Homo sapiens: one gene and its partners. The protein of the gene in region 5 interacts with the protein of the main gene of each other region in a pairwise test. Each region holds a gene or a part of one and is shown on either strand. Other genes may lie near its edges.

Region 1 (4,434 bases), on a different chromosome or scaffold from region 5:
CCTCCACCTCCCAGGTTCAAGCGATTCTCCTGCCTCAGCCTCCTGAGTTGCTGGGACTACAGGCGCATACCACCATGCCCGGCTAATTTTTGTATTTTTAGTAGAGACAGGGTTTCACCATGTTGGCCAGGATGGTCTCGATCTCCTGACCTCGTGATCCGCCTGCCTCCCAAAGTGCTGGGATTATAGGCGTGAGCCACCGCACCTGGCCGAAACAAACATTTTATATCCTAGAAAAGGGTGACATGCTAAGAAGTCTGGGCTAAATAAATAAATGAATAAATGAGAGAGCTTCAAAGATACGTTGTCCTGATTTTATAGTAAATCCAGAAAAAGGTAACCCCCAACCATGCATCTACCCAATACCTCTTGTCTCAGGTGAAATTCCCTGCCTCCAGCCCAGACTGCAATGAAGACTAAAAACTGGTCATCATGCTCTAAACTGTCATCTTAACATGCAAAGACATATTAACTGCCCCTTGTCTACCTCCCTCTGGGCCAAATAAATTCAAGTCCTTTCAATTTCTCTGGAAATCATCTCTCAGTTATTCAATCATTTTTATTTTTATTTATTTATTTATTTATTTATTTATTTATTTATTTATTTATTTATTTATTCTGGAGACAGAGTCTTGCTCTGTCGCCCAGACTGGAGTGCACTGGCGCGATCTGCAACCTCTGTCTCCTGGGTTCAAACAATTCTCCTGTCTCAGCCTCCTGAGTAGCTGGAATTACAGGTGTATGCTACCAGACCCGGCTCATTTTTGTATTTTTAGTAGAGACGGGGTTTCAGCATGTTGGCCAGGGTGGTCTTGAACTCCTGACCTCAAGTGATCCACCCGCCTCAGCCTCCCAAAGTGCTGGGATTAAAGGTGTGAGCCACGGCACCTGGCCTCAATCATTTTTATAATTCTTTTTTACATTCTAGCCAATGTGGAAACCCCTCCAGGCACAAAGCAGGAGACACCCCTCACTACTGAGGAAGGCCCTGCTGGCCCTGACTATGGTGGAAACGTGACTTCACCCCTCCTTCTGGCATACTTGTTAGGATCTCCTGGCATCAAGCGGCACCCTAATAATACCTTTCCCACGATTTCTACATAGGTCCTCTAAAAAACAGTAATTCACCTTTAAACCACCTGGCCACATGAGAATGTGATTAACAATTATTCCTAAACATTGTGGACAGGTAACCAGAGTTGGAAAAGGGTCTGTGTGGGCTGCCCCTCTCCACTGCACGCAGGAAGCTGAAAAAGCTGCACTGATGGAGGCTAGGAGTCCCCAAAAGGCATTGGAGATGGAATAAAAGTAGGAGCCATCAACAGCACTCCAGGTGAGATCCCTGGGGTCAAGAGAACGGCAGAAAGACAGGTCCCATCCTCCTTACCCAAAGACAGGAGGTCAAAGCACCTCTTTTCCCCAAACCCACTGGAAAAGGAACACATGCAAGAAAAAATATTGAGACCCAAGTTCCTGCCTGACATTGGTAACAAGACTAAGAAATCACCTGTTTTTTTTCATTCAGCTAACTTGGTCATAGTGCTTAGAAATAAGTTCCCAATTCAAATCAGCGAGGCTGAGAGACAAACCCCTTTTTTTCTCCTGGTGGATTGGGCCTGCAGAGGATCTTAAAAGACAATGTTATTTTTTTGTGTTGGGGGGACACTGAGTCAAGTGAATAACCATCCTTGCAGGTGTTTCCCACTGGGAAAAATGAAATCTGATGACCCCACTCCCACCCACAGGGACACAACACAAAGTCCTGGATGTGACTGTACTCCAGGGCCTGCTTACCAAGTCACCTGGGGCAGGACACCAACACCCCTGTTGGAACCCCAGGGCTGGGCCGGTGTTCAGTGAGGGTGCTTGTCAGGCCGTCTGGCCCTGAGCAGACCACGTGCAGCCTCACTGCTGCTGGTGCTCTTTCTCCTCCTCCTTTTTAGCCATTTTACTGATCATTAGTGGCAGTACCAGGAGGTGGGCAGGGGAACATAAAGGAGCTGAAATTCAAACCAGCCCATTTTACACCACTTAGGTGCCTCCCATAAAACCGGGCAAGATTTCATCATCCAAGAACTCCCTGTCCTCTGTCCTGTGGAGGTCTAAGCAGCCTGAGGGGTCAGGAGCTACACCATCTCCAGACCCCAGGATCAGGAGCCTCTATCTCTAATTATCATGAGCTCTTGACTGCGCATGGTATTTTCTGTCACTTCAGGGTTAACAGGCATTTCCAGCCATGAGCTGGCCCATCAAGTCAACGCCAGGAAACCTGCAGAGTGGGAGTGCTGGGGCTGCCCTCAGAACCGAAGCACACTCTCCTTGTCCCTCCAAAGTCCCCAGCACAATGGCAAGTTCACAAAGGAAGTGAGCCTTGCCAGACTGTGCTAGCAAATTCCCATAAATACTTGGGTCGGGGTAGTACTGCTTATGTAAAATGCTTCCCCATTGAGAGATGCTGCTTTATTTACATTCTTCACAACCCATTCATAAAAAGGAGGCCCTTTAATGTCGGGGCTGTTCGTATAATGCTCCATAAACTCGGCAGCTTCGCCTGGCAGCCTTAGTTCAACACAGGCTACTTCTCAACTCCAGAGACTTTTTTTCCTTAAGGTTTTTATTCTCCTTAATGACTCACCTTGCGACAGGGTGCTGAGGCCAGATGTTGCCGGAGCAAGGCCAAGAGGAATAAGAACAGATAAAATGAAAACACACAAGTCCTCCTGGATGCTGGAACAGAGAGGTGAGGAGGAATGAAAATAATTTTGAGAATTCCCCATAGAACTCCAATTTGAAGTATGTATGCTAGGAGGCTGAATTCCTTCCAGGTTTACTAAAACTTCCTTTCTGGATGTCAAATGTGCCCCAACTTATACCTCTAACCAGAGAAGGTGTGAAAGGGTTGTTTTTTTTTTTTTTTTTTTTACCCAAAAGGAGCTCTCTCTAGTTTTTAATTTGCACCGGGGATGAATAAATAAACAGAAATTTTCTCTGTTTCTTGATATAAGTGTTCCAGGGGCTGCTGGCTCCAGAAGGGGCACAATTTGCTCAGAGTGAAGAAACTCAGGCAATCCCCAGAAAGAGAGGAAGGACTGTGTTCTAGGACACACAGCAAACACAGCTAAAGGAGCTGAGAAGAGAGCCCAGGAGATGCATTCTGAGGTAGCTTTTCTCCTGCTACAGTAGAAGGAGGAGAGAAGTAGTAGGGATTTTTTTTTTAATTGACGGGGGAGCGGTCTGCATTGCCATGGCAACTGTGAGGGGTGGCCTTCCCGCGTAGAAGGGAAATGCTGGTCCATTAATCATCAAACTGGGGCACAAAAGGGAGGTTTGGGGGAAAGGGGATGGATGCAGAATATATTTTTTCACTATCTGGCCTCTAACCAGTCACCAGTCCTCTTTCCCGTTTCCCCCATGGTCCAGGGTTGATGGTGAACCAAAACAGAAGCCTGAGAGAGCAGGGATTGTAGCTTTCCTTTATGAGGGGTCCAATGTGGGGCTGATTGTGCCTCTTATGTTGGTGATGCCCCCATAAACACCTCTTCCAAACCAGCCCCAAAAGTCCCATCTATGGGCCAGACCCAGGAGTATTTTTCTTTTCTGTGCTCAGAATTGTGTTTTCTCCCTCATTTGCACCCGGTTTGAGAAGAGATAAAACATGGATTCATTTAGCATGAACAACAAGGAAAACTGCATAAGAGCAGCAAAGCTGGGTAGAAAGAATGGTGGTCCGGTGAGGTAGGAGGAAAACAGGATTACAGCCCTTTTCCAATGTCTATATGGTATCACATAAGCAATCCATAGGACTCTTCACCAGCAGAAATATTAGAAACAGCAGTTAAATTTCCCATTTACAGCACCCCAAACATGCCCTATCCATATGCCTTTGACAGAAAGGGCTGGAAATCTCCAAGGACTCCAATATGAGCATTTCTGGAGAAGCTGAAAGGAAGGTCTCCCCCTTGTTCCTGCCTAACTCAGCAACCAACCACATTTATTCACTCAACAAAAATGATGTGCACAGCACTGTACAAGAAATACCAGAATATTCACACACACACACACACACACAGAGGTTTAACACTCATATTGTTCCTGTCCTTAAGAAATTTCCAACCTACAAAACCACTCAAGAGGATACCACGTTAGAAAATCCAGAGTCATGAGCTCAGGCGGGGATGACTATGTTGGCCTGGAGTGGTCTGAGCAACAACCAGACTAAGGACAAGTGGGATTCAAGTGGGAGTAAAGGAAGGGGAGCGGCAGCAGTGAAGATGCAGGAAGAAAAAATGTGCATGGTATGGCTAGGGAAGAGCTGGAGGGGACACTGTCTAGGGTCAGACTGCAGGGAACGGGGAGCCATTGCAAGTCTGTGAGAAAGGGAGTGACACCGGGAAGGGGTGTTTTAGGAAGAATGACCTGGTAGCTGCATACAGA
Region 2 (4,434 bases), on a different chromosome or scaffold from region 5:
ATTCCTGAAACTGGGTAATTTATAAAGAAAAGAAGTTGATTTCTTACAGTTAAGGAGGCTGAGAAGACCAAGGTCAAGGGGCTACATCTGGTAAGAACCTTCTTACTGGTTGGACTCTGTAGAGTCCAGAGGCAGCATCGCCTAGTGAGAACGCTGAGCGTGCTAGCTCAGGTCTCTCCTCCTTTTCCTATAAAGCCGCTTACATGATAACCCATTAACCCATACCAATGAGGGCTCAATCAATTCTTAAAGGCCTCACCTTTTAATACTGTATGGCAACACTGAAAATCACATTTCTTTCTTTCTTTTTTTTTTTTTTAAGAGACAGGGTCTTACTCTGTCGCCCAGGCTGGAATGCAGCGGCAAGATCATAGTTCACTGCAGCCTTGACTCCTGGGCTTAAGTGATCCTCCCACTTCAGCCTCCTGAGTAACTAGGACTAGAGTTATACATCATCACACCACAACATTTTTTATTTTTTGTAGAGGCTGAGTTCACTTGAGCCCAGTGAGCTATGATGGCACTCCTGCAGCCAAGGTGACAGGCGACAAGGCAAGACACTGTCTCAAAAAAAGAAAAGAAAAAAGGGAAAAAAACACCCATGTAACAATGTAATCAATCTCACCCCAATGAGAGAAGATTCACTTACCGAATAAAACTCAAGTGAACACCAAGTGACCGGTGGGACCCTGAGCAATCAATGCAAAGGAACACTCCATAGGTTATGCTTGCCCAGCTGGGATTTTTGGCACCACAATCAAAACACACCTGAAAAAAAATGTTAAATTCAGTTACTAATTTATGTTAGCCAAATAAATTATCCTGTAAGATACAGTAAATGACTTAGCTTGAAAACTGTTTAACCTTTACAATGTAAACTTTGGGATTGTATTATTAGAAAATATCTCACCTAGGTTTTTTTAAAAGCCTCAAATTTCATGCTCTTTTATTATTATATATAATTATATTAATTATAAATTAGTATAGTTAATTACTATATTATGTATTTTTTTATTCTGAGACAGAGTTTCGCTCTGTCACCCAGGCTGGAGTGCAATGGTGCAATCTCGGCTCACTGTAACCTCTGCTTTCCAGGTTCCATTGATTCTCCTGCCTCAGCCTCCGGAGTAGCTGGGACTACAGGCTCACACCACTATACCCAACTAATTTAGTACTTTTAGTAGAGATGGGGTTTTACCATGTTGGACAGGCTGGTCTCGAATTCCTGACCTCAGGTGATCTGGCAGCCTCGGCCTCCCATAGTGTTGGGATTACAGGCACGAGCCACTGTGCCCAGTTTACTACATGATTTATACAGTATATTACAGATTATGTTATATATATATTTATCTATTTATTTTTGAGACGGAGTCTCGCTCTGTCGCCCAGGCTGGAGTGCAGCGGCACGATTTCGTCTCACTGCAAGCTCCGCCTCCCAGGTTCATGCCATTCTCCTGCCTCAGCCTCCTGAGTAGCTGGGACTACAGGCGCCCGCCACCGCACCCGGCTAATTTTTTGTATATTTAGTAGAGATGGGGTTTCACCGTGTTAGCCAGGATAGTCTCGATCTCCTGACCTCGTGATCCACCCGCCTTGGACTCCCAAAGTGCTGGGATTACAGGCGTGAGCCACCGCGCCCGGGCTATCATGTATATATTTTAACAATGCACACTATACATAGTGAAGAGAATTTAGGTTTGTGTACCATCTCAAACATGCCTTATCCTTGAAGCATCAGCAGGGATCCTACCAGTCATGTAAAGGAATGCTAGTGAGGGAAGCAGCCCTGCCTAGAAACACTCCAGCCCTACCATCCTTCCTGGCAGTGGCTATACCAGATGGCAGGCTGTTGAGCATATTGCTTCTCTCCCCAGCCAGAGGAAGAGGTTGTGGCAGCCAGACTCCAAGATGGCCCCAGTGAAACCCACCTCCTGGTATTTGCATCCCGTGTAATCTCCACCACCCTCACTTTACCAAGGTGATCTGTGTGTCTATGTGTATATGGCAGAAATGACCATGTCATTTTTGAGATTGGGTTACAAATGACACTATGGCCTTTTCCTGTCTCCCCCACTCTCTTTTTCTCTCTCCCCCTCTCTCCCTCCCCACCTTGGATCACTAGCTCTAGGGGAAGCCAGGTGCCATGTCTTGAGGACACTCAGGTTGCCCTGTGGAGAGGGTGAAGTGCTGAGGAGTTGAGGCCCCCAGTCCAACTGCCAGCGAGGAGAGGAGGCCTGCCAACCACCATGTGAGTAAGCTCCCAGATGACCTCAGCCCTGGGCCAACAGCTTGACTGCAGCCTCATGAAAGACCCTGGGTCAGAAGCAGCCAGCTAAGTCACCCCCAAATTCCTGACCCTCAGAACTATCTGTTGTTTTATGATGCCAAGTTGGGGGTGATCTGATACACAGCAATAGATGACTAATACAGAGAGATATTCCTTTATGAAATGCTGTGCCCTTCTCTACCTCCACTGCCTCACTCTGTCCAGGTCACTTTGATAACTCTTAGATGCAGGTTCATAACCGAGGACTACGTTCCCTGCCCACTGAGGGCACTGAGAGCTCTTACAGGGGTAGAATCTTTCCCTTTTGCTAATCTTTATGGCTTTTTTTCTTTTTTTTTTAAGGAGACAAGGTCTGGCTCTCACCTAGGCTGGAGTGCAGTGGCACGGTCCTAGCTCGCTGCTTTATGGCTTTTTTTTTTTTTTTTTTAAAGAGACAAGGTCTGGCTCTGTCACCTAGGTTGGAGTGCAGTGGCACGGTCCTAGCTCACTGCAGTCTCGAACTCTTGAGCTCGAGCCATCCACCCCCCTCAGCCTCCTAAGCAGTTAGGACAAGTGTATGCCACCGTGCCCAGATTTTTTTTTTTCTTTTGTAGAGATGGGGGTCTTGCTATGTTGCCTAAGCTGGTCTTGAACGCCTGGGCTCAAGCAATTTGGGCCCTCTCGGCCTCCCAAAATGCTAGGATTACAGGTGTGAGCCACCACGTCCGGCTCCTGTCACCTTACTTTCCTGTCCACTAGCACAGAACCTGCACATGGTAAACGCACAATAAGTGTTTGCTGAATAGTTGTGTACTTTTAAATCTCACACACAGCCTGAAAAATAGGCTTACCCATGGTAAGCATTCAGTAAATATTTGTTACTCAAAAGAATAACTTTAAAAACGTATTGCCAGCTCAAAAATTACTAGCCCCTTCAACACTGACACTGAAGCCCAACAGGAGCATAAAAGTACTTTAAAATACACAGTGCTAACTAGCAGAGTCACGCGTCGGAAGTGTGCTGGGCCCATAAAATACACAGTGCTTGTTGTGGAAAGTAGTATTTATAACTCATTAAACTCCGAATAGGGAAAAAATTCCTCTAATAGAGGTGTTTTTAATCTTTTTGCAGGAAAAAAAAATACATATTAGATATATAGGCTGGGTGCAGTGGCTCACACCTGTAATCCTAGCACTTTGGGAGGCCAAGGCAGGTAGATCGCTTGAGCTCAAGAGTTTGAGACCAGCCTGGGCAACATGGCGAAACCCTATCTCTACCAAAAAATTAAAAAAATTAGCCGGCGTGGTGGAACGTGCCTGTAGTCTCAGCTACTCAGGAGTTTGAGGTGAGAGGATCGCTTGAGCCTGGGAGGCGGAGGATGCAATGAGCGGAGACCACTCCACTGCACTCCAGCCTCAGCAACAGTGAGACCCTGCTATCAAAAAAAAAAAAAAAAAAAAAAAAAAGATATACTTTATAGGCAGAATCACTTATGTGAAGGTTGTCCAACCTATCATTATCAAGCAAGATCTGGCTTCTGGTCTTTTCAGGGCAATACAAGGGCAATACAAGAGAGGAAACACGAGTGGGTTTTCTAAAGCCCCTCACCACAATATGCTCACACTGATCGCACACTGAATAATCGGGGTGGAGTGACAACTGACACAAAAAGAGGCCAGGAGATTTACTTTGGTGTTTACTGATCACCTGCTGTATGTCAGACATGTGACAGGTGATGAGGTATGAAAAAGTAGCAGCACAAACACTAGCTGAACGCTTATTGGTGCTAGTCTTTAAAGAGCTCACTGAGAAGTGGGGAAGACAGACGCGCAAATTCAAACGCCCTGTGGTGATGGCCATTAGGAGAACCCTCTTCTGTGGGGCATCAAACAAAACGACAGACTCTGCCAAAAGGTGCTGTTCTTCCCCGTCAGGCTGTGTGTAATTTCTCACCTAGTTACTCAACTACCAGTTGCTGTGCACTTACCATCAAGTGTACCTGGCACATACCAAGTGGACATACCAGCGTGGTTCAGGAAGTCTGCCCACATGGAGCCCACAGTCTAGCAGTCCAGTGGGCAAGACAATTAGTTACAAGATTGTTTCCTAGTAAGCAAGGACAGGATGCAAAGGGTTTTTGGTAGAGGTGATGGCAGAGATTTTGGGT
Region 3 (4,434 bases), on a different chromosome or scaffold from region 5:
ACAAAAAGACCTACCCAACCCTAAGAGTGGCAATGGAAGCTTTTAGTTCCATATGACACTAAGAGCTGTGTGTGATGACAATGAACAAGAATTTCTTGTATATTGCAAACTAATTAGAAGAGTATATTTTGAATGTTCCCATCACAAAGAAATGATAAATGTAGCTGGGCATGGTGGCACACACCTATATGGCTACTCAGGAGGCTAACACAGGAGGATCACTTCAGCCTAGGAGTTTGAGGTTGCAGTGAGCTTTGACTGCAAGACCTAGCACTCTGGGGTGACAGAGTGAGACCCCATCTCACAAAAAAAGAAAAAGAAGAAGAAATGAAGAAATGATAAAATTGGAAGTGATGGATATCCCTGGGTTTATTACATATTGTATGCTTGTAACAAAATATCACATGTACTCCACAAATATGAAGTAGTCTCTATAAAAATTTTTAAATTAATTAATTTCACATGGCTGTCAGGAACATTAAACAAATTAAGTTTTAAAAAGTGAGTGACAACAATGTCAAATACTCTAAAGAAGTCACAGAGGAGTAAGAATGAAAAATAGGGAGTAAATATGGTGATATGTTCATAACAGATAATCTTTAAAAGAGGAATGTTAGTTGGTAGGTGGGGGCAATACTCAAAAGGTAAAGAAATGAATCACAATAAAGCTGGTAGCAAACACTTTTTACAAATGTTAATGGTAAAAAGGAAGACAAGAAATAAGGAAAACAGGCAGTTGGGACAAACTGTCCTCTTCCAAAAAATTTTTTAAATACCTGAAAATGTTTGTAAGCAGAAGGAACCATATAGAGAGAAAGAGATGAAGATCCAAGTTAACTGAATATGGTCATGGTGAACTGGGGGAGAAAGGACAGTTAATGGGGAAGTGAGACATGTTAGATTTTTAAGATTAATGTCTGATTGAAGGTAACAGGAAAAATACGTGGGGTTGAAAAGAGTTAATTTTAGGAAAAATAAAAAGGATGACCTACAATTGACTAATTAATAGGCCAAGTTAACAACTGAGAAACTAAAATAAAATCTTTAGGGTACTGAAGAAGGATTAAACAAATGTTGCAGGTAAAAATAAAGAGATCTTTTTTAAAAAAATAAGACCTAATCAGAATTAAAGTTTTTGAAATCAGAGTTGACTAAATCAAGGACCATTTGATAGTCTAGAAGTGAGCACAGAGGAAGTTCAAAAGAGAAGAGGTTCAAATCTTACCTTGGCCTTTATGCCAGTGAGCATGACTAAAGATGTAAAGGATTCTAGGACAAAAAGCCACAATCAAAACAGATGATCCTGAGAGTAAGGTTGACTACAAAATTAAGATGGGTGCTACTAGGCTGGAAAAAGGAGTCAAAGCTCTGAACATCATGGGGTAATGGAAATCCAAAAGGAATGAACAGTTTATAGGAAGAGATTTAAATAGTACTGTAGTTTCAAGAAAAAAAAAGACAATATATGAACTTAAAAGTTGATGTGAAATGCTGGCACTAAAGAAGCAAGATACCATGAGGTCAGGCCAACCATGAAGACATGGGAAAACCGAGAGAAGTGCTGAAGCCACCAAAAAAGGTAGAAGAATCCTTGAAAGCAGTAGTTGATAATGACCAGCAAGTAACAGAGAAGTCATGTGTAATCTGCAAGAAAGTCACTTATAATACATTAATTCTAATTTTAAACAAAAACTGAACAAACTTACTTTGAAAAAGCAAACTCTCAGGTTTATATCTAAACAACTTTTGCCTACTTAAAAAAAATACAAACCCATTCTGAAGGAATAAAGTATTCCCCTAATGAGATCTAAAAATGAAAATAATGCAGACTCTGAAGGCTTTTCCTAACATAGTGTAAATAGTAAGTACTCAAATAATCTAAGTTGAATGAATTAATGAAAAAGAATTCCAAAAGTGGCATCATGGTGGAATGGTGTCTCATTTTCACTGAATGGATGCAAGTATAGATGGCCTGACAGATGGATAAAAAGACAGTTGGAATACAGAAAGAGAAACAGACTCCACTGAAAATCTTAAAGTCTCTCAAAGTGACTGCTTTAAAGAGGATGACGCCACTACAGCCTGGGCGACACAGCGAGACTCCGTCTCAAAAAAAAAAAAAAAAAAGGAGGATGACGCTCATGAGATTACAAGTATTTATTTAGTAAATATATTTAAAAATTTAAAATTCTGTTGGAAAGTAACCATTATTGAAACACCAATGGGGCAATAAAAAGTTCCATGGAAAAACTATTTCCCAGCCGGGTGCAATGGCTCATGCCTGTAATCCCAGCACTTTGGGAGGCCAAGGCGGGCAGATCACTTGAGGTCAGCAGTTTGAGACCAGCCTGGCCAACATGGTGAAACCCTGTCTCTACTAAAAATCCAAAAACTAGCCAGGCATGGTGGCTCACACCTGTTGTCCCAGCTACTCAGGAGGCGAAGGCAGGGGAATTGCTTGATCCTGGGAGGCAGAGGTTTCAGTGAGCTGATGCCACTGCACTCCAGCCTGGGCAACAGAGCGAGACTCCATCTCAAAAAAATAAAAAAGAAAAACTATTACCCTAACAAACCTATTCTAATTTCATTAGCTTAATTTTTCTTACAATTTTAGTCCCATAATTTCTAGTTACTATGCTGAGAAATAGGACCAGGCAATATCCTAAAAGTTCCTTATTGTTAGATCCTTTTAGCTCCTTGAAGAGAAAAACTGGCTTCTAATAGGATAACTTTGTTTTTGAAACAGAAACTTGCTGAACTATAATTTTAATTGGCAATTTACACATTTAATTCATCTTACCTCATCATATGATTTACATAGGCTTTGCTACAGCTAGTGTTGTATCTGCAAAAACTACAGTGGACGTACGTAGGAAAGTGGTTTGCAAAATCTTTTATTTCGGAACAACACTCAATGCATTTGTGAATGCCCCGACGATACCTTAGGGAGACATTAAAAAAATGATAAAAATATATTTTAAAACAAAAATAATAAGGAAGAGCCTTAATAATGTTCTCTTAACTAAAGTATAAGTTTTTATACTTAAGTTTAAATTATATTGTATATCAGGAATAAAAGATTACCTTAAATTCCTCAATGCTGTATTGACTTTACTTTTTTTATTGCTACTAGCCAATGTGCTTTGTTTCTTTTGCATATTAGAGATTTTTGGTTTGTATTTAGATTTACTTCCATTAGGCTTACTTGTATTAGGTTTACTTGCGTTGGATTTGACTGTATTAGGTTTACTTGTATTAGATTTTGCAGGATTTTTAGCAGTTATATTTTTAGTCCTTGGAGGTGAGAGCTGAAGGGTAGAAGCACTTGCACTAATGGAAGGTGTAGGTGAAGCTCCTGATTGCAGAGGTCCAACTGAAGCTCGAATAGTAACCTACAAAAATAAAGAGAAGATTTGCTTTAAGAGATTAATCAGTACATTAATATTAAAATATCATGGTACAAAAATAGTTAAAAATCAAGAATTTTGAAAAAAGCACATATAAACTACAATCAGGTAAGTCTCCCATTTATTCTAAATGTTCAAACTATTAAATGATATTAAACTTGATATTAAGTTGTAATATTACATTTTTGTATTGATATCAGTTATATGTTAACACAGTTATCAGTGAATAATTAGGAGTTAATACAAATTATATGAATATACAAAGAGCACATTCCATAGCTATTTTTATGCCCTGACTTAACTTTAAGAAATTCACAAGCATAGAGCTCAAAATTTAAATCTCAAGCCTGAAAAATAATTCTAGAAAGGCCTAAATTACCCTTTAACAACTATAAAAGAAACAGATCTACAGTAAATGTGATCTCCTCTTTCCAGGGGCTCAGTGCCCAAGATTTATGCTTACAAATGTTATGGGAGGAGTTACATCAATTTATTATACTGCATAGAGGGCTAAATAATATTCAGAAATTTCTTAAAGTAAACTAATACAAAGTTCATCATTTAGTATTCAGAATGAGAAAATGTTTAATTTCATCTGTTGGTTGACAATGAAAAACACAAGTGCCTACCAACATTCTGGTTAATCATTTGACTATACCCTCCTCCGGTATTTGAGGAACAGTCAATAAGGAAGTCCTATGACATACATGTGCTTGGGTAACATACAATGGCACTGGACCAGGAATCAAAAGGCCTTCCTAGCCATGTGACCTTGAACAAGGAACTTATCCTCTCTATGCTTCTTCACATCTATAACATGGGGCAATACCTGCCTTATTAACCTCAGTGGATTGTGGTATGAATTAGACAACAGAATGTATGAAAAAGTACACTGAAAGTCTAATTCTAAGGTGCTATAAAAACATTTAGTATCATTATCATTAATATTATTATTATTAATAAGGGAAAAAATGAGAGAGGACTGCACTGCTTACATTAGTGTTCTGCATGTCTAGTCCCAACATGG
Region 4 (4,434 bases), on a different chromosome or scaffold from region 5:
GGCCACTGCTCCCATCACTAGCCGTGGAGCCCCCACCATGCCCAGGACCCTCCCCTCAGCACTCATACTAGTGTCCTTATCGGAGCTGCTGGCTTCATGTCCCCGGCTGCTTCCCAGATGGTCTTCCCATGCCCATCTGAGAGCACGGCTGGGCACCTTCACTGGGCTGGGAATATCTCGAGAAGAGGGACAATGTTTGCTGCAGCTCCAGGCCCCAAACTCCCAGCATGGGGCCCAACACAAAGCAGCTTATTCTGTCAACAAATATTCATCAAGTGTCTACAGTGTACTGGGACCTGGGCCAGGCCCCAGGACCCCAATGGTGAGCAAAACAGAACCACCATCTGGTCTAGATAACAATCATCAAATAGTCCTATCAACAACACCAGCATGGGCAATGGTGGAACAGAGCAGAGAAATTTTTTTTCTTTTTTTTGAGACGGAGTCTTGCTCTGTTGCCCAGGCTGGTGTGTAGTGGAACAATCTCAGCTCACTGCAACCACTGCCTCCTGGGTTCAAGCGACTTCCGGCTAATTTTTGTATTTTTAATAGAGACAGGGTTTCACCATGTTGGCCAGTCTGGTCTCGAACTCCTGACCTCAAGTGATCCACCCGCCTCGGCCTCCCAAAGTGCTGGGATTACAGGCGTGAGCCACTGCGCCTGGTCCAGAGCAGAGAATTTTAAAAGCCTATGATGGGGGGACCTGAGCTGGCCTGGAGGAGTTTACAAAGGAGGAGGATGTCCAGGCCAGTGGTTCTCAGCTTGCATCCTCTGACCCTTGGACGTCCTTGAGACCCATGGGGGATCCACGAGGTCGTAACTAATCATGATACTAAAATTATGATACTAAAATGTTACTTTCCCTTTCACTATGTTGACATTTGCCCTGATGGCACAAAAGCAATGAGGAACTAGCTGCTGAAGCCTCAGCCCCAGTCAAGGCCAGAGCATCAAACACTATCCTCGGACCACACACTCACGGGAAGGAGAGATGTCCAGTTTCACTGAGGAATGTCCTTGATGAAGGTGTAAAAAGTACTAATTTTTTTTCTTTTTTTGAGACAGACTCTCACTCTGTCACTCAGGCTGAATGCAGTGGCGCAATCTCAGCTCACTGCAACCTCCACCTCATGGGTTCAAGGGATTCTGGTGCCTCAGCCTCCCAAGTAGCTGGAATTACAGGCATGTACCATCACACCCAGCTAATTTTTTATATTTTTAGTAGAGATAGGGTTTCGCTATGTTGGCCAGGCTGGTCTTGAACTCGTCCTCAAGTGAACCACCTGCCTCAGCCTCCCAAAGTGCTGGGATTACAGGCGTGAGCCACTGCGCCTGCAAAAGTCCTAATTTTACTAAATCTAAACTCAAGTACATGCCATTCTACTCTTCTGTGTGCTGAGGTGGGAAGTGTGCACAATGCCTGTTGCTGCAAACCCAACTCTCTGTGAAAAGCGCTCGTCTCTAAGCTGCCAGCTGCACTAGCCACTTTTTCACCTGAACCACTATTATTAATTAAAAGAACGACTGACAATGGTTATTCAGTCTTGGGTATCTGGAAGACATTTTTTCACAAGTCAATGAAGTGAATCCATCACAAAAATAAAACACCACGTGCTGACAATAATTTAAAAATTGGGCCAAGGCCGGGTGCGGTGGCTCACGCCTGTAATCCCAGCACTTTGGGAGGCCGAGGCGGGCGGATCACTAGGTCAGGAGATCGAGACCACGGTGAAACCCCGTCTCTAGTAGAAATACAAAAAATTAGCCGGGCGTAGTGGTGGGCGCCTGTAGTCCCAGCTACTCGGGAGGCTGAGGCAGGAGAATGGCGTGAACCCGGGAGGCGGAGCTTGCAGTGAGCTGAGATTGTGCCACTGCACTCCAGCCTGGGCAACAGAGCAAGACTCCATCTCAAAAAGAAAAAAAAAATTGAGCCAAAACGAATCCAAGAGTAGAATTTTGAAAAGCGCGTATCCACCACCAGCAGGGTCACAGCATCCTAATATCTAAGGACTTTTCTGATGAGGTCAGAAAACAAATGTGCTTTTTTAGGATATTATATAATGAAGGGTGTCAACACTTGGAAGACGTGCATAACTTGGTGAAACAATATTTTCGAAATGATCGATGTATGTGGTTATGAAATCAGACACATCTAAAAGATCCATTCAAAGTGTGGCCAGTTGTGGTGGCTCACGCCTGTAATCCCAGCACTTTGGGAAGCCGAGGCAGACGGATGATTTGAGGTCAGGAGTTTGAGACCAGCCTGGCAACATGGTGAAACCCCGTCTCTACTGAAAAGACAAAAATTATCCGGGCGTCGGTGGGCACCTGTAATCCCAGCTACTCGGGAGGCTGAGGCAAGAGAATCACTTGAACCGGGAGGCAGAGGTTGCAGTGAGCTGAGATCGCACCACTGCACTCCAGCCTGGGCGACAGAGTGAGATTTCATCTCAAAAACAAAACAAAACAAAAAAAAACAAAACAAAGTGCAAGGTAGACCCGTGTGGAATCAGCAACATGGTTTCAGATTCCACACCACAACAAACCTTTAAGAACTACCACTTCTTGCGCTGGTCCTGATAACAAAGAATATGCATAATTATCTGAAAAAGCTATGAAGATACTCCTCCCTTTCCCAACTACACGTCTATGTGAGGCCAGATGTTCTTTAGCTACTTTTTTTTTTTGAGACAGAGTCTCACTGTATCACCCAGGCTGGAGTGAAGTGGCGTGAATTCAGCTCACTGTAACCTCCACCTCCCGGTTTCAAGCAATCCTCCTGCCTCAGCTTCCTGAGTAGCTGGGACTACAGGCACGTGCCACCACGCCCAGATAATTTTTTGTATTTTCAGTAGAGACAGGGTTTCACCATGTTGGCCAAGACAGTCTCAATCTCTTAACCTCATGATCTGCCCACCTCGGCCTCCCAATGTGCTGGGATTACAGGTGTGAGCCACCTCGCCCGTCCAGTTCTTCAGTTACTTTAACCCAAACAACACAATGCAACAACAGATCAAACGCAGAATGTGGCTTATTTAAAGTCATACAATAAAGAGATTTGCAAAATGTAGAATAATGCCAGTGTCTTCAGTACATTTTTGTTTTGGAAAAGTTATTTTTTCATAAAAAGTCTTAATGTAAACAGGTGATAGGCTTGGTACTTGCATTTTATAATGTTAAAATATTAAACAATATTTTTAAATCTTTAAAGTACTAAATATTCATATAAAAATATTAATATTTAAAATACTTTTAAACTCCTCAGTTTTAATTTTTAATACAGTAACGATCAATAGATATAACCTCATAATCAAAGCTTTTTTTTTTTTTTTTTTAACAGAGTCTCACTCTGTCTGGAGTGCAGTGGCACAATCTCAGCTCAGTGCAGCCTCGACCTCCTGGGTTCAAGCAATCCTCCCACCTCAGCCTCCTGAGTAGCTGGGACTACAGGCACATGCCACCATACCTGGCTAATTTTTTCCATTTTGGTAGAGATAGGGTCTGGCCATGTTGTCCAGGCTGTCAAAAGCTTTTTGAGGCTGAGGCTTAATCATTAAAAACAGGAAGCCCAGGTCCCTCACCCTCAGCACTCACCCTGGTATCCTCACCACAGCTGCTAGCTTTATGTCCCCGGCTTCTTCCTAGCTGGGAGCATGCCTGTTCCCAGTGCCACTGGTCTAGGGAGAAGGAGGGCCAAGGCCATGAGGCAGGAAAAAAAGAGGCTTTTTTGGGGAACAGAGAGAAGGTAGCTGAGCTGGCGCATCCTGAGCCATGGGGGCTTGGTCAGAGTTCAGGCTGGGAGGTGGCCAGCGGGAGGTTGGGGTGCACAGGGTCTCAGGAAAAGAGGGAAGACAGCAGGCCAGGCACAGAGAAGGGAAGCCAGGACCCTTCCTGGGTATAGCAGCCAGGTTTGGGGAGGTGGTGGGAGCAGCTGCAGCGCCGGGCTGACAGTCATGGGTGGTGATGACCCCCATTTAAGGGGTTTATACCCAGAAGATACATCCTCCTCATCTCCCCATGCTGTGTCATCCCAGCTCACGTGCTCCCTGATGAAGACGCCCATGTGACTACATGGCTCTCCCACCAGCACAAGCATTCTCTGGAATGCTAAGTGCCATCTGCACGACATTCAGGCCTCAGAGCTGGTCTGGTGGTAGGGAAGTGGCCTAAGCACTGGCAGAGGGATGGAAGGACTGTTCTCCAATGCAGAGGTGGCTCGAACGCCCCAAGGTGGAGTCCTGAGGCAGTGGGCCTGTCCCTTCCTATCCACTTCAGAACTGCTGCCCGATGGGCCCCGCAGGCACGTGCGCACCAGGCCAGGAGGCAGGGGATTCCTGCTGACACACAGCAGTTCCACGCCCCGGGGCCACACTCTGGCTTCCAGAAGCCCCCTCCACCCACGCTGACTGCTGGCTTTTTTTCCTATCTCATTT
Region 5 (4,434 bases):
GCACTGTTTGAGAAATTGGATTTCCTCTTGTTACTTTCTGACTTCTCCCTGGGTTTATTATTTTCACCCTCCTTCATCTTCTTATACTTTTTCATAAATTCAGAAATTAGCTCAGGGCAATCCAAGTTTTTCTCAGGTTCCCAAGTATTGTGCTCCCTGGGTAAGAAAAATGGGAAAATTAAAAAAAAAAGGGGGGGGTAAAGAATGAGGAAAAAAATCCAATGCCTTATTTCAAAGAGGACATTCGGACAAAAAGGACAGAGAAACCCTATGCTTTAAAGAAGATAACAAATTTGATCCTAGATTTCTACCCAGGAAAAATGAAAAAAAAAAAAAAGCCCACACAAAGACTTATTTACAATTGTTTACAGCAGCATTTTAATAGCCAAAAACAGAAAACAAATTCAAATGTTCATCAATGGATGGTGACATGGAAAAACAAAATGTGGTATATCCATACAAAGGAATATTATCCAACAACAATAAGCAAAATATTAAAACATGCTACAACTTGGAAGAACCCCAAAAACATTATACTAAGTGAAAGAAATAAGACACAAGATACTACATACTAATTCCATTTACATGAAATGTCTGGGAAAGACAAATTTATAGAGACAGAAAGCAGATCAGCCGGGCACGGTGGCTCACACCTGTAATCCCAGCACTCTGGGAGGCCGAGGCAGGCAGATCACTTGAGGTCAGGAGTTTGAGACCAGCCTGGCCAACACAGTGAAACCGTGTCTCTACTAAAATTACAAAAATTAGCTTGGTGTGGTGGTACACATCTGTAGTCCCAGCTACTCGGGAGGCTGAGGCAGGAGAATTGCTTGAGCCCGGGAAGGGGAGGTTGCAGTGAGCTGAGATTGTGCCACTCCTGCCTGGGCGAAAAAGCCAGACTCTGTCTCAAAAAAAAAAAAAAAAAAAAAAGCAGATCAGTGAATGCCTGGGGCTGAGGGAGGGAGTTGTAATTAACTACAAATGGGAATCAAGAGAATTTTGGGGGACACAAAAATGTTCTGAAACTGGATCATAGTGGTGGTTGCATAGCTCTATAAATTTATTCCAAATCATTTAATTGGAGCCAGGCACAGTGGCTAACGCCTGTAATCCCAGCACTTTGAGAGGCACTCAGGAGTTCGAGACCAGCCTGGTCAATATTGCAAAACCCTGTCTCCACTAAAAATACAAAAATTAGCTGGGCTTGGTGGTGCACACCTGCAGTCCCAGCTACGCAGGAGGCTAGGGCATGAGAACTGCTTGAATCTGGGAGGCTGCGGTTGTAGTGAGCCAAGACTGCACCACTGCATTCCAGTCTGGGCAACAGACTGAGACTCTATCTCAAAAAAAAACAATAATAATAATTTAATTGGGCTGGGCGCAGTGACTCACGCCTGTAATCTCAGCACTTTGGGAGGCTAAGGTGAGCAGATCACTTGAGCCCAACAGTTCAAAGACCAGCCTAAGCAACATAGCAAGACTCCTGTCTCCACAGAAGATTTAAAAATTACTCAGGCATGGTGGCTTGCACCTGTAGTCCTAGCTACTTGGGAGGCTGAAATGAGAGGATCCCTTGAGCCCAGAAGGTTGAGGCTGCAGTGAACCGTGATTGCACCACTGCACTCCCACCTGGGTAACAGAGTGAGATACCATCTCAAAAAAAAAAAAAAAAAAAAAAATCACTGAATTGTACAATTTTTTTTTTTTTTGAGATGGAGTCTCACTCTGTCTTGCAGGCTGGAGTGCAGTGGTGTGATATCGGCTCGCTGCAACCTGTCTCCTGGGTTCAAGCCATTCTTCGGCCTCAGCCTCCCCGGTAACTAGGATTACAGGCATGCGCCACCAATTTTTGTATTTTTAGTAGAGACGGGGTTTCACCATGTTGGCCAGGCTGGTCTCGAACTCCTGACCTCAAGTGATCCGCCTGCTTCGGCCACTCAAAGTGCTGGAATTATGGATGTGAGCCACCGCATCTAGCCTGAATTGTACAATTTCAATGGGTGAATGTTATGGTGTTTAAATAATACCTCGATAAAGCTATTTAAAAACCCAAAATTCAGCCAGGCACGGTGGCTCATGCGTGTAATCCCAGTACTTTGGGAGGCTGAAGCAGTCGGGCATGGTGGCACCTGCCTGTAATCCTAGCTACTCAGGAGGCTGAGGAGGGAGGATCACTTGAACCCGGGAGGCAGGAGGTTGTGGTGAGCTGAGTTCGAGCTATTGCACTCCAGCCTGGGCAACAAGAGTGAAACTCCATCTCAAAAAAAAAAAAAAAAAAAAAAGGTTTATTTAGATGGGAATGATTTGAACACATGCCATAATAACCTGACTCAAGTAGAAAGCAGAAAGACGGAAAAATCTGAGCTATTTACTCTTGACCTAAACAACTTTCTACAAAAGGAACATAATATTGAGACAAAATTTATTTCTAAATCATTTGAGCTAATATGGGAAAGTTTCTCCTTTATATCCCTTCTCTCAGCAGAAAAAAAATTCCTCGGCCGGGCACGGTGGCTCAAGTCTCTAATCCCAGCACTTTGGGAAGCAGAAGCAGGTGGATCACCTGAGGTCAGGAGGTCGAGACCATCCTGGCCAACACAGTGAAACCCCATCTCTAATAAAAATACAAAATTTAGAAGGGCGTGGTGGCGGGCGCCTGTAATCCCATCTACTCAGGAGGCTGAGGCAGGAGAATCGTTTGAACCCGGGAGAAGGAGGTTGCAGTGAGCCAAGATCACGCCATTGCACACCAGCCTGGGCAATAAGAGCAAAACTCTTGTCTCAAAAAAAGAAAAGAAGTCAAGAAAAAAAATTCCTCACACAGTAACTTTCCCCAAAACCCACAGACCATATAGTTTACCATCCCAGAGGAAATTAACATACCAATATCAAAAGGTGTACCAAGACTATTACACAAGCCGAATACACTTGGGGGTTGGGAAGAATCTGTTGATAGCTAGAAAAGCCAGTCCTATAATGCGATTATCCCTTTTCCTAACACTTTGGTACTGCTGCTTCTACTTCAGTTTCCACCCAAAAGACAACATAGTATGATTTAAAAAGAGCCTGGGTTGGCCAGGAATAGTGATTCACACCTATAATCCCAGCACTTCAAGAGGCCAAGGCAGGCAGATCGCTTGAACCCAAGAGAGCGAGACCAGCCTGGGTAACACAGTGAGACCCTGTCTCTATTTTGAAGATAAAAAAGCAGGGCGTGGTGGCTCACGCCTGTAATCCCAACACTTTGGGAGGCTGAGGTGGGCGAATCACAAGGTCAGGAGTTCGAGACCAGCCTGGCCAACATGGTGAAATGCTGTCTCTACTAAAAATACAAAAAGTTAGCTGGGCGTGGTGGCAGGCACCTGTAATCCCAGCTACTCGGGAGGCTGAGGCAGGAGAATCGCTTGAACCCGGGAGGCGGAGGTTGCAGTGAGCTGAGATCGCGCCACTGAGCTCCAGCGTGGGCGATAGTGAGAGACTCTGTCTCAAAAAAAAAAAAAAAAAAAGATAAAAATATGTAAAAATTTAAATTAAAAAAAGAATTAAAGTTTTGAAAGAGGCAAGGGTCTTGCTATGTTAACCAGACAGGAGTGCAGTGGCTATTCACAGGTACGATCCTACTAATGCTCAAAATGGGAGTTCTGACCTGCTCTGGTTCACTCCTACTTAGGCAACCTGGTGGTCCCTCACTCCTGGGAGGTCACTATATTGATGCCAAACTTAATGCAGACACCTGATCGGTTTAGTGCACTACAGCCCAAAACTCCTGGACTCAAGCAATCCTCCCACTTCAACCTCCCTAGTAGCTGGGACCACGGGTACATACCACCATGCCTGGACTCTAAATGCTTTTGTGAGAATCGAAGAGAGCACAAGAGGTAGAATTTGATCACTGTCTAGCACAAAGTAGGCATTTAGTTATAGACAATGCTGATTTGTTCCAGTCTTTTATGAAATCCAGGGCATTTCTGAAAAAGGACCAATGTTTACTTTGTCTACCCCAAACCTTACCTTTTCCCCTTTCATCTATGGTAAGGTACCAGTAGCTCAATGACAGAGAAAGAGTTTCAAGTATCTTTCAAACACCCAAATATTTCCAGTGGAAATGGGCCCAATAAACATCTTCAAAATCTTCTGGTGTTACTTTAGTTCCTATCTGTTAGTGCTCTAGAGGTCTCTCAAACTTTAACAGTTCTCATCTCTAGTGGAAGCTGTGATACCACTCCTCTCTACAAACAGAGGGCATCTTCTGATTGTTGTGCTACCCATACTTGCACTCTGGGTGCTAGAGATGCTAAGCATCCTGCAATGCATGAATGATCCCACCTACAACGCCAATAATTCTCCAGATGAGAAACCTTGAGTCATGTAATGAAATAACCTCCAGTATGTTTCAAAGGTTCTTGACACATAGCCTTTATCCAAAAGTATTGG
Region 6 (4,434 bases), on a different chromosome or scaffold from region 5:
TTTAAATCCAGTTAATGCTGGGTGCCATGACTCACACCTGTAATGCCAGTGCTTTGGGAGGCCGAGGTGGGAAGATCACTTGAGGCCAGGAGTTTGAGACCAGCCTGGGAAACATCTCATCTCTACCAAAAAACAAAAACAAAACAAAACAACAACAACATCAAACATAGCCAGGTGTGGTGGTGCACACCTGTAGTCCCAGCTCCTTGGGAGGCTGAGGCAGGAGGATTGCTTGAGCCCAGGAGTTCAAGGCTGCAGTGAACTATGATTGCACCACTGCATTCCAGCCTGGGCAACAGAGCAAGAACCTATCTCTATTTAAGAAAAAATGCTCCTAAGAAATCATCTTAGTACTTGGTAAGCTATTAAGGTTTTTTTTAAGTGTATTAATTACATAGCCAGTATAATAACTTAGTTGCTAAGAGCTTTGAGGTGGCTCCAAGCAAGAAGAAAGGAGTTGTTGTTAAGCTACAGCTCAGAGTCTCAGAATGAACTGTTTCCATCTTCGCTGTCCTTTGCTTAACTGTGGGATAAATATAATTTTCTCAACATTCAACACATGTGTCCTTAATCGTCCTCTACGACACTGGTTCCATGTTGCCAAGAGAACCCAGAACAGCCGCAAACACCTACTGGATTGTTACTGGCCTTTCCTGAGAGGATGACCCGGGCTTTGACCTTGTTCATGTTGAAGTTCTTCAAGTAGGCCTCGTAGATTCTCTTGGCCAGAGATTTGAGATCTGCAGTTTCAGAATCTTCTATGTCATGTTCACAGGTAAGAATTTCTGCTTTCAGTTTTGCTTTCTCAGATCTTGGCATTCGTCCAAAACGAATCGCTAGGGTTTGGAGGGGGAAACACAGGCATGAGCAGTGAGGTCATGACTGCGCGGACAGGGCTGGACGAGGGGCTCCCCCAGGACTTTAAACCAGGAATGAAAATTCACAGGCAGTTCAGACCCATCCTTCATTACTATTCGGCTTTCCACTATGGAGAGATGAAAAACTCAAACTCCATACACTGTAGATGTTTAAACAGGTGCAGGCTGAAGGTGACACCATCGTTAACAGGTGCAGGCTGAAGGTGACACCATCGTTCGTCTCATTAGTAGGGTGCACACCACTATCAGGTGCATCATCAACCTTTGAGTGAAGGAGGTGAACGGGGCTTCGGGATGAGTTTATATAATAACTGCTTCTTTTTCCAGAAGGTAGACATGCAACTCTTATGAACGACTTACATTCACATCACAATTAGCATGTTCTGAAACTATTAAATGATTGGCTAGAAGGAAATTCATAACGTGGTGAGATGTTTGAGGTGGTACACCCTTCCTATGGACGAGGTGAACATTCTGTCATTTTGGTGCCTTCCACTTGGTTTTTCGATTCTGTATCAAAGTCTTACCACTGAAGTTTCTAACAGCGAGTCCAATGCACCACTGAATCTCAGCTATTTGAGACTTTTTCTTTTTTTTTCTTTTTTTTTGAGACGGAGTCGCACTCTGTCGCCCAGGCTGGAGTGCAGTGGTGCGATCTCAGCTCACTGCAACCTCCGCCTCCCGGGTTCAAGCTATTCTCCTGTCTCATCCTCCCAAGTAGCTGGGATTACAGGTGTGCACTACCATGCCCAGCTAATTTTTGTATTTTTATTAGAGACGGGGTTTTGCCATGTTCGCCAGGCTGGTCTCAAACTCCTGACCTCAAGTGATCCACCCGCCTCGGCCTCCAAAGTGCTGGGATTACAGGTGTGAACCACCGCACCTGGGAGACTTTTATTTTCTTTCTTTCTTTCTTTTTCTTTTTTTTTTTTTTGTGAGACGGAATCTCCCTCTGTCGCCCAGGCTGGAGTGCAGTGGCGCAATCTCAGCTCACTGCAACCTCCGCCTCCCGGGTTCAAGCGATTCTTCTGCCTCAGCCTCCCGAGTAGCTGGGACTACAGGCATGTGCCACCACACCCAGCTAATTTTTGCATTCTTAGTAGAGACGGGGTTTCACCATATTGGCCAGGCTGGTCTCAAACTCCTGACCTGAGGTGATCCACCCACCTCAGCCTCCCAAAGTGCTGGGATTACAGGCGTGAACCACCGCGCCTGGGCGACTTTTATTTTCTTAGGCCACTCTGATTACAAAATGACTTGGGTGTGAAATGTTGAAGCACATTCATCCATAGCTTGATCTGTTCCCTTGGAGCAAGGAAGGGGAACTGAGGAACGAACTGGGAAAATGTGCAGGGCCACCTTACCTACCGTTGTGTGACATCCCGACAGAAAGGCACTTGTGAAATCGACAATACTGGCATTTGTTTCTGTTCTTTTTCTGGATCTTGCAGCTGCGGTCGCACTTGTCATACACCAGCTTGAGTCGAATCGTTCGCCGAAAGAAGCCCTGTGAGGGTAATACACAGTGGATTTAAAGACCTGGGCCACTGAGAAACCAGCGCACTTGCTTTACTCACCTTTTTTGTTGCTCATTTATTGTTTCTTTTTAAATGAACAAAATTTAGAGAAAAGTTATTCCAGGCCAGGCATGGTGATCATGCCTGTAATCCCAGCACTTTAGGAGGCTGAGGCGGGTGGATCACCTGAGGTCAGGAGTTCGAGACCAGCCTAGCCAACATGGTGCAACCCTGTCTCTACTAAAAATACAAAAATTAGCCGGGCATGGTGATGTAAGTCTGTAGTCCCAGCTACTCAGGAGGCTGAGGTAGGACAATCACTTGAACCCAGGAGGCGGAGGTTGCAGTGAGCTGAGATTGTGCCACTGCACTCCAGCCTGCGCGACAGAGTGAGACTCCATCTCAAAAAAAAAAAAAAAAAAAAAAAAAAAAAGAAAGAAATAGTTCTTCTAAGAAGTCTGGAATGATTAGGACAAATACAGAACTTTAAATGTCGTTACATTTAATGTGAAAAACAATAAAATGAGGCAGCATTCGAAGTCATTTCAAAATGCCCTCATCTGACTTGGGAAAACACAATTATAGTTTTCCAAAGAGTTACTCAGCCTTGTTACAATGTATATGAATGTAACTATCCCCAGCATTGTGACATTTCCATATTTGTGACTAAAGACTTTCTAAGAATTTTTGTAAGAGTATATTAACTCCCTCAAAGACAAAAATTATAATAAAAGGAAGCCAGCTGTTTGTAAACAATTTTCTTGCTTTGTAAAAGCATCTTAAACTCTACCCAGCAAGAAACAATGTTACTAAATAGTCCATAAAAAACAAAACTAAATGAATAATTAATCATGGCCCTAAGGAAAAGGCCACTTTATAAGGAGCTTTTTCAAAGGTATATGGTTAGAAAACATGCGAAGGAGTTCATTTTTGCTTTGGGTTCTTTTTTCTCTTTGCTTTTAAGTCATTCTTCTATATTTTTGCCACAGTGGGTCTGCTTGGCCCGCGGGAGAGGGACAGCAGTGTGCAGGGGAATGTGAGAGGCAGGCTGACGTCTTCATAATGTCCTTACCTAGGCTTGCACAGTGGGGAGGCTGAGGAACGCATGGGGTTAGAATGGGAAGGGTGGGGAGACAGGCTTCTAGACAGCAGAGTGCCACAGTGTCCTGGCTGTGAGGTTCTCCCTGTGGCCCAGGCCTCTGAGGCCAGGCCTGGCTCAGGGCAGAATGCTGGTGTTCCAAGATGGTACATTGTGCCAGAAAGGCGGTGGCATTTTCCAAGTTAGTGAACACCTGCAGCGTGCACCGTGAGAAGGGATTTCTGATTCAAACCAAACATTCAGATGATGATCTCCCACATATCACGTACATAAGGCGCCAGACTTGAGCACGTCTGTGCAACCCTAAAGGGACGCTGCTACAGGAGCTCTCCTCATCACCACGCTGACAAACACGGAAGGGCCACCAGTCCAGCTGGCAGCATGCAGGACAACAGGGCCTGCCTTCATGCACTCCTGGCCCAGGTCACATCTGTTTAGGGCAGGCTGAGCCAGCAGGAGGATGAAGATGCACAGGGGGTTCCTGTCGCTTGAATCAGGTGGAGAAGCCCCTGATGTGCAGGAAGGAACTGCTGGGGAGCAGGAGCAGCCAGTCTCTGGTTCCAGTCCCTGCTGCTGGGGGCTGTGGGACCCTAAGCAAGATACTCTGTGTCTCTGATGGCCAATTTCCCTGGCAGGAGCATGAGAACACCTGCCCCACCTGGCCTTCAGGGAGGCTCCAGAGATCAACGGTAACAGCTCTCTGTCTTGTATTCGAATGAAGTGATGTTCTTAATGTGGCTTATTTTCTTTTCTCTCTTTTTTTTTTTTTTGAGATGAAGTTTTACTCTTGTCGCCTAGGCTGGAGTGAAATGGCTCGATCTCAGCTCACTGCAACCTCCGCCTCCTGAGTTCAAGCAATTCTCCTGCTTCAGCCTCCCAAGTAGCTGGGATTACAGGCACCCACCACCACACCTGGCTAATTTTTGTATTTTTAGTAGAG
Region 7 (4,434 bases), on a different chromosome or scaffold from region 5:
AAAAAAAGAAGGCGGCCAGGCGCAGTGGCTCACGCCTGTAATCCCAGCACTTTGGGAGGCCAAGGCGGGAGGATCACGAGGTCAGCAGATAGAGACCATCCTGGCTAACACAGTGAAACCCCGTCTCTACTAAAAATACAAAAAATTAGCTGGGCGTAGTGGTGGGCGCCTGTAGTCCCAGCTACTCAGGAGGCTGAGGCAGGAGAATGGTGTGAACCCCAGAGGCAGAGCTTGCAGTGAGCCAAGACTGTGCCACTGCTCTCCAGCCTGGGCGACAGGGCGAGACTCTCTCTCAAAAAAAAAAGAAAGAAGTCTGGGCACAGTGGCTCACACCTATAATCTCAGCACTTTGGGAGGCCGAGGCAGATGGATAACCTGAGGTCAAGAGTTTGAGACCAGCCTGGCCAACGTGGTGAAACCCCATCTGTACTAAAAATACAAAATTAGCCAGCCATGGTGGCAGGCACCTGTAATCCCAGCTACTTGGGAGTCTGAGGCAGGAGAATCACTTGAACCCGGAGGGCAGAGGTTGCAGTGAGCCAAGATCATGCCACTGTACTCCAGCCTGAGTGACAGAGCAAGACTCTGTTTCTAAAATAAATAAATAAAAATAAACAAATCTAGAATGTAGAATTTTTGTTTGTTTGTTTTTTGTTTGTTTGCTTGTTTTGAGACGGAGTCTCGCTCTGTCGCCCAGGCTCGAGTGCAGTGGCGCTATTTCAGCTCACTGCTAGCTCTGCCTCCCAGGTTCACACCATTCTCCTGCCTCAGCCTCGCAAGTAGCTGGGACTACAGGTGCCCGCCACCACGCCTGGCTAATTTTTTTGTATTTTTATTAGATACGGGGTTTCACCATGATAGCTAGGATGGTCTCAATCTCCTGATCTCGTGATCTGCTGCCCGCCTCGGCCTCCCAAAGGGCTGGGATTACAGGCGTGAGCCACCGCGCCCGGCCAGAATGTAGAATATTTGAAAAGCAACTAGTCTGGTCTGTGCAAAATGTTAAATATAATAGGGAGAGAAAAAGGTAGGGGTACAATTCTAGATTGAAAGAAACAAGTACAACAACCAAACGCAACGTATAAACGCTAACTTGATCTTGGTCGAAAAACCAAACAGCTATAAAGGAAGACTTTGGGAACAGCTGGGGAGGAATAAAAATGGACTGGTATTAGTTATTCTAGGAAATCTGTTAATTTTCCTGGTTGTGATAAAAGGGTATCCATAGGTATGGCAAAGAATGTCCTCATGAGGTGCATGTCTGCAGTTTACTTTCAAATGGTTTGACAAAAATGTATACATTTATGTAAAGCAAATATGGCAAAATGTTAAGTTTTTGAATCTAGCTGGAGAACATACATGTGTTTATTGTATTATTTCAACTATTGGGTGGGTTTTGAAATATTTCAAAATAAAAAGAATTAGGTTGATGATTTAGGACCAAATTCACATACTCACATTTATTGCCTCGAACAGCATAAGCTAGCTTCAGTTCAGGGTAAAATTTGCCCATTTGTTCAATCACTTTTCCTGTTTGGAGGGCGAGCTCATACGTTGGGGAGAGACATAGACACTGGCAGGAAAAGAATGCAGAGTGCAAATTCAAGACAATAGCTCTTTTGCAAAGGGGAATTACCATTAGTACTTAGCCACTCCTCCAGCTGAAGCTGAAGGAAAGAATATGTACATTAAAATGTACACCATTTGATTCTTTAAGCTACAGAGTCATAAGCTAGAATTCTTAGGGGTCAGAACTCTGGCTGGGTAAAGACACTTGAAAACAGATACTGGCCACTGCAATACAAAAACCCACCCATGAGCAAGGATCTAAAGTTCCAATTGGCATTAGCTTTCTTTTCGTTTACTCAGAAAGCTCTCAGAACTTTCTAATGGATGGCAGTTGCTGATGAAACAGGTTTTCCTGCAAGTAAAGGAGCCAAGCCTGTAAGAAGCATCCCAGAACTGGCACACCATGGAAAAAGGAAACAGGATTTTTATTGCCATTGGAAGATATCCCGTATTATTTGTGCTCAATTTAAGGAGTTTCAGTTTGTGTAAAAAGTAATGCATAGCTTGGCTTTTATTTTATTTTTTTGAGACAGAGTTTCGTTCTTTTTGCCCAGGCTGGAGTGCAATGGTGCGATCTCAGCTCACTGCAACCTCCGCCTCCCGGGTTCAAATGATTCTCTTGCCTCAGTTTCCCAAGTAGCTGGGATTACAGGCACATGCCACCAGGCCCAGCTAATTTTTTATTTTTAGTAGAGACAGGGTTTCACCATGTTGGCCAGGCTGGTCTAGAACTCCTGACCTCAGGTGATCCGCCCACCTCGGCCTCCCAAAGTGCTGGGATTACAGGCATGAGCCACTGCACCCAGCCCATAGCTTGTCTTTTAATCCATCAAATGGAAATCCCCTTCTATCTATGCATTAGTAGAAAACCTAAATTCATAAATCCTTACCTGGGGGTATTTGTTTGCAGGTTCTACTTGGCTAAGCATGGCCAGCACGAAGGCAGCTGTTTTACCAGTACCAGACTGAGATTGGGCAATTAAGTTCTGTGGGCTGCGCAAGAAACAAACTAGTTAGGAGCTTAAATCTCAACCTTTTAGTTAACAAAGTTTAAAAAAATGAGTATTAAAAATTCATTTATAGGAGACCTTGGATTATGTAGCAGAGTTACATATGCTAGCTTCACAAGAACAGGGCACTATAGAAATAAGATTTTCTGGTGGGATTTGAAGCACTCCACATCTTCTTCTTTTTTTTTTTTTTTTTTTTTTTTTTGAGATTAGGTCTCACTCTGTTGACCAGGCTGGAGTGCAGTGGCACAATCTTGGCTCACTGCAGCCTCAACCTCCTGGGCTCAAGTGATCCTCTTGCCTCAGCCTCCCAAAGTGCTGGGATTATAGGTGTGAGTCACTGCAGTTGGCCTACTGATTCTTAAAATGTGAGTCAGCTCACATTACTTCTCTGCCCAAAGACCTTCCAATAATTCCTCGTTTCATTCAGAGTACAAGTTGAAACCCTCATAATGGCATACAGGTCCTGCATGATCTGCTCCCCATTACACCTCAGCTCTCATTTCCTACTACTCTCTCTCCCTTACTTCGTTCCACCACAGGGCCCTAGTACTGCTCAGAGAACATGCCAGTCATGCTCTTGTCTTAGGGCTTCTGCCTTGGCTGTGCTCTGCTTGGGACAACTGTCCCCAGATAACATGCTAACTCCCTTCTCTCCTTCAAGTCTTTGCCCAGATATCTACTTCAGGAGATCCTACCTTAACCACTTGATTTAAAAGTGTAATCTACCTTGAAATGCCTAAAAAAAACAAGATGTAGGTTTTGGTAGCAGGGTAGGGGGTAAGAGTGGCAAGAACCAAGTCTTGCCTTGAAGGTGGCAAGAAGCAGCTCAAGAAGCAGGCAAGGCCAGGCGCGGTGGCTCATGCCTGCAATCCCAGAACTTTGGGAGGCCGAGGTGGGTGGATCATTCGAGGTCAGGAATTTGAGACCAGCCTGGCCAACATGGTAAAACCCTGACTCTACTAAAAATACAAAAATTAGCCAGGCATGGTGGTGGGCGCCTGTAGTCCCAGCTCCTTGGGAGGCTGAGGCAGGAGAATCGCTTGAACCCACGAGGCAGAGGTTGCAGTGAGCCGAGATCGCGCCACTGTACTCCAGCCTGGGTGATAGAGCGAGACTCAGTGTCAAAAAAAAAAAAAGAAAAAAGAAAAAAAGCAGGCAAGGTCAGGTGCAGTGGCTCATGCCTGCAATCTCAGCACTTCGGGAGGTTGAGGTGGGTGATTTCTTGAGCCTAGGAGTTTGAGACCAGCCTGGGCAAAATACCGAAACCCTTTCTCTACAAAAGATACAAACATTAGCTGGACATGGTGGTACATACCTGAAGTCCCAGCTACCTGGGAGGCTGACATGTGAGGATCTCTTGAGCCCAGGAGGTGGAGGGTGGAGGTTGCAGGCTGCAGTGAGCTGAGACTGCACCACTGTACTCCAGCCCTGGTGACAGAGCAAGACCCTGTCTCAAAAAAACAAAAAACAAAAAACGGAGCAGCCGCAGCAGGCCAAAGATATGGACGAGGAAAATGAGGTCTTCCGGCAGGGGAAAAAACAAACAAACAAACAGAAGAAACATGAACTAAAAGTGAAACCATGGGGAGGGCCCCCGGCCACAGGTGGAATTTTAAAATCTGGCAAAAGTAAGCTGTTCCTTATGGGGACTTTTTTTTTTTTTTTTTTTTTTTGCAACGGAGTTTCACTGTTGTCACCGAGCTGGAGTGCAAAGGCGCGATCTGAGCTCACTGCAGCCTCTGCCTCCCAGGTTCAAGCAATTCTTCTGCCCCAGCCTCCAGAGTAGCTGGGATTACAGATGCCTGCCACCACGTCTGGCTAATTTTTGTATTTTTAGTAGAGATGGGGTTTC

What was found.
Region 1: the proteins of CBX5 (region 5) and BAHD1 interact in binary tests that used the Homo sapiens proteins (3 or more experiments, as listed by UniProt).
Region 2: the proteins of CBX5 (region 5) and ARFGAP3 interact in binary tests that used the Homo sapiens proteins (3 or more experiments, as listed by UniProt).
Region 3: the proteins of CBX5 (region 5) and ZNF280D interact in binary tests that used the Homo sapiens proteins (3 or more experiments, as listed by UniProt).
Region 4: the proteins of CBX5 (region 5) and INCENP interact in binary tests that used the Homo sapiens proteins (3 or more experiments, as listed by UniProt).
Region 6: the proteins of CBX5 (region 5) and PPARA interact in binary tests that used the Homo sapiens proteins (3 or more experiments, as listed by UniProt).
Region 7: the proteins of CBX5 (region 5) and DDX19B interact in binary tests that used the Homo sapiens proteins (3 or more experiments, as listed by UniProt).

Annotation. Positions count from the first base shown.
Region 1 is NC_000015.10:40,443,745-40,448,178, reverse strand, and holds part of BAHD1 (bromo adjacent homology domain-containing 1 protein), read right to left. Parts: exon of another isoform or gene 2,778-4,434; coding exon of another isoform or gene 2,636-2,777; intron 1-2,635.
Region 2 is NC_000022.11:42,846,865-42,851,298, forward strand, and holds part of ARFGAP3 (ADP-ribosylation factor GTPase-activating protein 3), read right to left. Parts: intron 769-4,434; coding exon 650-768; intron 1-649.
Region 3 is NC_000015.10:56,663,595-56,668,028, forward strand, and holds part of ZNF280D (zinc finger protein 280D), read right to left. Parts: intron 3,393-4,434; coding exon 3,085-3,392; intron 2,942-3,084; coding exon 2,801-2,941; intron 1-2,800. UniProt on the Homo sapiens protein: May function as a transcription factor.
Region 4 is NC_000011.10:62,133,305-62,137,738, reverse strand, and holds part of INCENP (inner centromere protein), read right to left. Parts: intron 1-4,434. UniProt on the Homo sapiens protein: Component of the chromosomal passenger complex (CPC), a complex that acts as a key regulator of mitosis.
Region 5 is NC_000012.12:54,252,072-54,256,505, forward strand, and holds part of CBX5 (chromobox protein homolog 5), read right to left. Parts: intron 157-4,434; coding exon 1-156. UniProt on the Homo sapiens protein: Component of heterochromatin that recognizes and binds histone H3 tails methylated at 'Lys-9' (H3K9me), leading to epigenetic repression. In contrast, it is excluded from chromatin when 'Tyr-41' of histone H3 is phosphorylated (H3Y41ph).
Region 6 is NC_000022.11:46,216,214-46,220,647, reverse strand, and holds part of PPARA (peroxisome proliferator-activated receptor alpha), read right to left. Parts: intron 2,386-4,434; coding exon 2,247-2,385; coding exon of another isoform or gene 2,243-2,246; intron 837-2,242; coding exon 634-836; intron 1-633. UniProt on the Homo sapiens protein: Ligand-activated transcription factor. Key regulator of lipid metabolism. Activated by the endogenous ligand 1-palmitoyl-2-oleoyl-sn-glycerol-3-phosphocholine (16:0/18:1-GPC). Activated by oleylethanolamide, a naturally occurring lipid that regulates satiety.
Region 7 is NC_000016.10:70,322,713-70,327,146, reverse strand, and holds part of DDX19B (ATP-dependent RNA helicase DDX19B), read right to left. Parts: intron 2,563-4,434; coding exon 2,460-2,562; intron 1,574-2,459; coding exon 1,459-1,573; intron 1-1,458. UniProt on the Homo sapiens protein: ATP-dependent RNA helicase involved in mRNA export from the nucleus.